2 linked regions of the Homo sapiens genome follow. The protein of the gene in region 2 purifies or fractionates together with the protein of the main gene of each other region. This does not show direct contact. Each region holds a gene or a part of one and is shown on either strand. Other genes may lie near its edges.

What was found.
Region 1: the proteins of PIP4K2B (region 2) and RBMS2 purify together in Homo sapiens (co-immunoprecipitation; one large-scale study listed by IntAct). This does not show direct contact.

The regions. Positions count from the first base shown.
Region 1 is NC_000012.12:56,584,199-56,588,015, reverse strand, and holds part of RBMS2 (RNA-binding motif, single-stranded-interacting protein 2), read right to left. Parts: intron 1,168-3,817; coding exon 1,090-1,167; intron 463-1,089; coding exon 352-462; intron 1-351.
Region 2 is NC_000017.11:38,775,274-38,779,090, reverse strand, and holds part of PIP4K2B (phosphatidylinositol 5-phosphate 4-kinase type-2 beta), read left to right. Parts: intron 1-718; coding exon 719-757; intron 758-1,290; coding exon 1,291-1,404; intron 1,405-3,817. UniProt on the Homo sapiens protein: Participates in the biosynthesis of phosphatidylinositol 4,5-bisphosphate. Preferentially utilizes GTP, rather than ATP, for PI(5)P phosphorylation and its activity reflects changes in direct proportion to the physiological GTP concentration.

The sequences.
Region 1 (3,817 bases), on a different chromosome or scaffold from region 2:
AAGGAATGCAGTAGGCCTAAAAGAAACCTAATGAGCTTCCTCCATCCTTCCAGGTACTATTTTGATGAGGATTCCTAGGACGTGTGTGTATCTTAAACTAATATGCAGACAGAAGCACTATTCACAAGGTGCATGAGTAGGAATCAGTTAAAAGGGGTGGGCTGGGGAGCAGAATGGCTGTATTCCTGGCTCATGGAGCACTACCATTGTAGTTTATGTCCTGTTCTGAGTGTGCCCCGGATGACACTGAAGTAATTCCATCATTATTCATAAGTTACTTACGCTGAAGAGTATTACACAGGTATGCCTTGCTCAGTAGGAGAGTTTACAATCAGAAATATCCTGCTTTACCGTGCCTGTGCTGCTGAGGGAGAGATGGCCCAGTTGCTGGGTAAGGGGTCCCATCATGGAGGCAGGCTGGAGAGAAATGGGATGGTCCATCCCTGGTGTCAGAACTGAACCCTAGAGGCAGCAACAAAGGACAGGGTTAGCTGCAGCATCCTGTGAGGCTGCCTAAAGCAGTGATCGGTGGCTGTCAGGACCACTGGAGACAGACATTTAAGAATCCTGGGAAATGGTAAGTGAGCAGCAACCCAACTATGCAACAAGAATAGGAACTCTGCCTGTCAGTGTGGAAGGACCCTCGTCTAAGAATAACAAGCTTAGGTCTTACTGCTGGGTTGCACAAGGGTCTGAGCCAGAACTCACACCCACATCTCCTGGCATCAAAGGCCTTTTTTTTTTTTTTGAGACGGAGTTTCACTCTTATTGCCCAGACTGGAGTGCAATGGCACGATCTCAGCTCACTGCAACCTCTGCCTCCCGAATTTAAGCAATTCTCCTGTATCAGCCTCCTGAGTAGCTGGGATTACAGGCACCCGCCACTACACCTGGCTAATTTTTGGCATTTTTAGTAGAGACAGGGTTTTGTCATGTTGGCCAGGCTGGTCTCGAACTCCTGACCTCAGGTGATTTGCCTGCCTTGGCCTCCCAAAGTGCTGGGATTACAGGCGTGAGCCACAGTGCCCAGCCAGTTTTTTCTTTACATCAAATTGCCTCTTTGGCTTCTGCCCACTTCTGAATACTCACTGAAGGCTGCATGAGGTATGAATGGTGGTGCATCCAGGATGGGTTAGGTACTTGTAGAGGAGATGTCTGAGTCACTCTCTAAAACAAGCAAAAACAAAAATGTTAATTGCCTGGAAACTATTATTCAGCCCACAGATCTAATAATGTTCAACAAAGCTCAGAAAAGTTTGAATGCCCCACTCAAAATAGAAACATTAAGAAAAACTGTTTTTAAAATATTAGCAATTCTTAAAACTCAATAAATAATCCAGTTTAAAAAAGGGCAAAAAGGAGTTCAAAATTATAGTGAGCTATGATTCTGACACTGCACTCCAGCCTGGGCGACAGAGTGAGACCCTGTCACTAAAAAAATTAGTAAAAAAAAAAAAGGGTTTGGAAAGATATCTCTCTAAGAAGATATACAAATAGCCAATGAGTACATGAAAGAGGTTCAAATGCAAATCAAAACCACAATGGGATACCACTTCATACCTATTAGGATGGCTACAATTATTATTTCTATTTTTTGAGACAGAGTCTTGCTCTGTTGCCCAGGCTGGAGTGCAGTAGCGGGACTACAGGTGTGCACCACCACACCTGGCTACTTTTTTTTTTTGAGACAGGATCTTGCTCTGTCACCCAAGCTGGAGTGCAGTGGCAGGATCTCAGCTCACTGCAAGCTCCGCCTCCCGGGTTCACACCATTCTCCCACCTCAGCCTCCTGAGTAGCTGGGACTACAGGTGCCCGCCACCATGCCCGGCTAATTTTGCTTTTGTATTTTCAGTAGAGACAGGGTTTCACCGTGTTAGCCAGGATGGTCTCAATCTCCTGACCTCGTGATATGCCCGCCTCAGCCTCCCAAAGTGCTGGGATTACAGGCGTGAGCCACCGTGCCCGGCCCACACCTGGCTACTTTTTGTATTTTTTGTAGAGACGGGGTTTCGCCATGTTGCCCAGGCTAGTCTTGAACTCCTCAGCTCAAGTGATCCGCCCACCTCAGCCTCCCACAGTGCTGGGATTACAGGTATGAGCCACAGTGCAAGGCCAGCATGACTACAATTAAAAGGATAGAATAACAAGTGTTTTACACTGCCACTGGTGGGAATGTAAAATGGTGCAGCTACTCTGGAAAATGCTTTGGCAGTTCCTCAAAAAGTTAAATATAGAGTTACTATGTAGCCCAGCAATTCCACTCCTAGGTATATATCCAAGTGAAATGAAAACATATGTCCACACAAAAACTTGTATATCAATGTTTATAGCAGTATTATTCATAATGATCAAAAGGAAACAACTTAAATGATGACCAATTGATAACTGGATAAACAAAATGTGGTATAGCCATATAATGGAATATTATTCAGCTATAAAAAGAATGAAGTACTGATAAATGCTACAACATGGATACATCTTGAAAACATACTAAGTGAAAGAAGCCAGACGCAAAAAAATCATATTGTATGATTTTACTTTTGTGTAATCACACAATCATACAATTTTCTGAGCTTTGCCTATTATATCCAGAATAGGCAAATCCATAGACACAGAAGTATATAATGGGTTGCAAGGACATTTCAATTAAAATTGGATTTGAAATAATCCAATATTGGATTAAATAATCCAAAAAGTGAGATTATTTAATAATTTGGCGCTAGGCCAACTGGTTAACACTCTGAAAGAAAACAGACTCCTATCTTATGCCATACACAAAGATAAATTCCTGATGATTACACATTTAAATGTAAATGTAAAACATAAAATCTTAGAGACCAGATACACAGTATAGAGACAGAGAATACTTTTTTAAATTAAGACAAGAAATTTAGCCGGGCGCAGTGGCTCACGCCTGTAATCCCAACACTTTGGGAGGCCGAGGTGGGTGGATCACCTGAGGTTGGGAGTTTGAGACCAGCCTGACCAACACAGAGAAACCCCATCTCTACTAAACATACAAAATTACCCAGGCATGGTGGCATATGCCTGTAATCCCAGCTACTTGGGAGGCTGAGGCAGGAGAATCACTTGAACCCAGGAGGCAGAGGTTGCAGTGAGCTGAGATTGGTCCATTGTACTCCAGCCTGGGCAACAAGAGCGAAACTCGGTCACAAAAAAAAAAAAAAAAAAGACAAGAAGTTCAAAAGTTATTTATTTATTTATTTTTTGAGACAGAGTCTCACTCTGTCGCCGAGGCTGGAGTGCAGTGGCGCGATCTCGGCTTACTGCAAGCTTCACCTCTCAGGTTCACGCCATTCTCCTGCCTCAGCCTCCCCAGCAGCTGGGACTACAGGTGCCCACCACCATGCCCGGCTAATTTTTTGTATTTTTAGTAGAGACGGCGTTTCACTGTGTTAGTCTGGATGGTCTCGATCTCCTGACCTTGTGATCCGCCCTCCTCGGCCTCCCAAAGTGCTGGGATTATAGGCGTGAGCCACCGTGCCTGGCCTCAAAAGTTATTTATAAAAGAAAAAGACAAATTTAACTATATAGAAATTTTAAACTTTTTTTTTTTTTTTTTGAGACATGGTCTTGCTCTGTTGCACAGGATGAAGTACAGTGGCGCGATCACAGCTCACTGAAACCTCAATCTCCGGGCTCAAGCAATTCTCCCACCTCAGCCTCCTGAGTTACTGGGATTACAGGCACGCACCACCTCACCTGGCTAATTTTTGTATTTTTTGTAGGGACAGGGGTTTTGCCATGTTGCCCAGGCTGGTCTCGAACTCCTGAGCTCAAGTGATCTGCCTGCCT
Region 2 (3,817 bases):
CCATCAGGCCCCCATGGACTGCCAGCACAAGTGCATCTCTAGACTCTGAGAAGGACACACTTGTGGCTGTGAACTAGGGTGCTCCGTGTTCTTGAACCTGGCTTCTGACTTCTGTCACCTTATGCCGCCATCCCTTCCCTCTGTGCTGCAACTGGGCTGGTTTCCTCTGTGTTCCTGCAGTGCCTGTGCTCCTCTTCCCAGGATTTCACATCTGCTGTCTGGAATAGTCTCCTTCTCTCTCTCCACCCACTCCTTCCCCCACCTAATTGCTTCCTCCTTACCCTTCTGAGCTCAGCCCAAATACTACTTCCAGGAAGTAGGTAGGCCCTGGCCACTGTCCCTCCCCAGGCCGGGCCCGTGTGGTATGTGCTTTCAGAGTGTCCTGCTCCTCCCTGTACCACTGAGCACCGTGGTAGTGAATGAACTAATGACTTGTGGAACCACTGCTGAATATCTGTCTCCCCTGTTAGAAGGAAAGTAGCTCAAGGGCAGGGACTGAGCTTCTCCAGTGCAGTCCTGTTTGCTGAGCACCTAAAAAGTGTCTTGCACATAGAGCTCTATAAGTGGGCTTGACACAGTAAATGAACAAGGTGCTGCCTCCTGGCCCCTCTAGGACTCTAACAAGCCTACTTGAGTTCACCTGCTGGCTCTCCCATGTTTGCTCATGCAGTCGACTTTGCCTCAGCTTGACTTCCCCTGATGGCTCTTATCCTTTCAGGGTTCTACGGTTGCCAGAGAAGCGAGCGACAAGGAGAAGGTATGCTGGTGCTGAGCAGGAATGGAAGGGTCGCTTGGAGTCAGAAACAACTCCTGTCGGCCATCCTGTCCCTCGCCCACCCCAGCCCCTAGCCCAGCTCCCAGACATGCCGTCTGTCAACATGAAATGCCGTGTGTCATGAATCACCTGTCTGTCCTTGTGCTAGGCCTAGACCTTGGTCTCTGGTCTTTTACCTCTGCCCTCACTACGTTCTTCATAGTCCTGCTGGGATGGCAGACATTTCTATCTCATAGTCCAGCCTGAGTCAGTCAGTGGCTGCCTGAGCCCTGAGCTGGTCCAGGCTCAACAGGAAAGAATCCTTTAGTCATTCCTCATCTTTCATGTGTTTGCCCTCCCTGCCCACCCAAAGCCTGGGACTAGAGGCTCCTGCACTGCTGATTTAGCAGGTTGAGGGTCGGTACACTGACAACCCCTCCTTCCCCTTTCTGTATAGTTGCTCCCGGCAGAACAGTTGGGTGTCCCTGGGGTGAATTAATCAGGCTTACCCAGCCTAACTGCTGTTGCTCTCCTAGGCCAAGGACTTGCCAACATTCAAAGACAATGACTTCCTCAATGAAGGGCAGAAGCTGCATGTGGGAGAGGAGAGTAAAAAGAACTTCCTGGAGAAACTGAAGCGGGACGTTGAGGTACTTACTAACCTTCATTTTCACCTGCAAGGCTCCTTCTGTACCTAGAGTAGGCGCCTCTTAAACCTTAAGAAGAATGGAATTCAGTACTTTCCAGGAGTATGGACAAAAGGGTGGTGATTTGAGCAGCGTGGGCACTTATGGGCACCTAAAGCAAGTGCAAATGATCATTCCACCTGACGGAGCATAGTTGGCGCCAGTAGGACCTTTGTAATTTAGTTTAGAATGCTTTTCCCTTTTCACTAATTCATTCCAACACCTTTTTCAAACTCCCTTCTGCTGTTGTCCCTACAATGGAGAGGGCATCTGGCCATCAGAGCTGTAGGAACCCAGCTATTAAGGTCCTGTAACCCCAACATTTTGGGAGGCTGAGGTGGGAGGATCGCTTGAGCTCAGCAGTTCAATACCAGCCTAGGCAACATAGCAAGACCTCATCTCTACTAAAAATTAAAAAATTTAGCCAGGCGTAGGGGCACACACCTGTAGTCCCAGCTACTTGGGAGGCTGAGGCGAAAGGATTGTTTGAGCCCGGGAGATGAGGCTGCAGTGAGCTGTGGTCTCACCACTACACTCCAGCCTGGGCAACAGAGCAAGACATTGTCTCAAAACAAAAACCGAAAAAGTTGGCTAAGCATGGTGGCTTACTCTTGTAATCCCAGCACCTTGGAAGGGTGAGGCAGGAGGATCACTGGAGCCTGGCAGATCAAGGCAACATGAGCTGTGATCATGCCACTGTGCTCCAGCCTGGGTGACAGAGCAAGACCCTGTCTCAAAAAACAAAAATCCACTAATCAGGTTCTTCTCTGGCTCTGGCTCTGATTCTCCACTTACCTAGCAAACTTCTGTTTGTAATCTGGGGAGGACAGGTGCTAAATAGTGAAAATGTTATCTGGACCACTTGATAACTCAGCGTCTCCTTCTCTTTTAATAAATTGAGAGGCTGCTCGTTAAAACCAAATCCTACAAACAAACTTGGGAAAAAAAATTTTTTTTAATTGTGGTAAAATACATATAATAATAGGTGTTTTTTTTGTTTGTTTGTTTGTTTTGTTTTTTTTTAGGAGATTCTCGTTCTGTCCCCAGGCTGGAGTGCAGTGCAGTGGCACGATCTCGGCTCACTGCAACCTCCGCCTCCTGGGTTCAAGTGATTCTCCTACCTCAGCCTCCCAAGTAGCTGGGACTATAGGCACGCACCTTAACCATTTTGATATATAGTTGAGTGGCATTAAGTATATTCACATTGTTATGCAACCAGCACTACCATTCATCTCTGAACTTTTATCTTTCCCAGCTGAAACTCTATACCCATTAAATACTAATTCCCAATTCCCCCTCCCTAACCCCTGGCAATCAGTGTTCAATTTTCTGCCCCTATGAAGTTGACTACTCTAGGAACTTCACATAAGAGGAAGCAAACAGCCAAGCGAGGTGGCTCATGCCTGTAATCCCAGCACTTTGGGAGGCTGAGGTGGGCGGATCTTCTGAGGTCAGGAGTTTGAGACCAGCCTGACCAACATGGAGAAACCCAGTCTCTACTGAAAATACAAAATTAGCCGGGCATGGTGGTGCACGCCTGTAATCCCAGCTACTTGGGAGGCTGAGGCAAGAGAATCGCTTGAACCCAGGAGGCGGAGGTTGCGGTGACCCTCCAGCTTGGGCAACATGTTATGAATGAAACTCCATCTCAAAAAATAAAAAAAAAAAAAGGAAGCAAACAGCAGTTGTCCTTTTGTGACTCTGTTATTTTGCTTAGCATAATGTCTTCAGGGTTCATCCATACTGTATCATGTGTCAGAATTTTTTTCTTTTTATTATTTATTTATTTGTTTTGAGACAGAGTCTCGCTCTGTTGCCAGGCTGGAGTGCAGTGGTGCGATCTCGGCTCACTGCAACCTCCGCCTCCCGGGTTCAAGCGATTCTCCTGCTTCAGCCTCCCAAGTAGCTGGGACTACAGGCGCGTGCTGCCACGCCCAGCTAATTTTTGTATTTTTTTAGTGGAGACGGGGTTTCACCATGTTGACCAGGATGGTTTCGATCTCCTGACCTCGTGATCTGCCTGCCTCGGCCTCCCAGAGTGCTGGGATTACAGGCGTGAGCCACCACACCTGGCCAGAATTTCTTTCTTTTTAAAGCTGAATAAGGCTGAGCATGGTGGCTAACACCTGTAATCCCAGCAGCTCAGGAGGCTGAGGCAGAAGGACTGCTTGAGGCCAGAAGTTGGAGACCTGGGCAATTTACTGAGATCCTGTCTCTACAAAAAATTAAAAACTAGCTGGGTGTGGTGACATGTGCCTGTAGTCCTAGCTATTCAGGAGGCTGGGTGGGAGGATCCCTTGTGCCTAGGAGTTCACGGTTGTGGTGAGCTATGATCATGCCACTGTGCATCAGCCTGAACTAGAGGGTAAGACCCCAT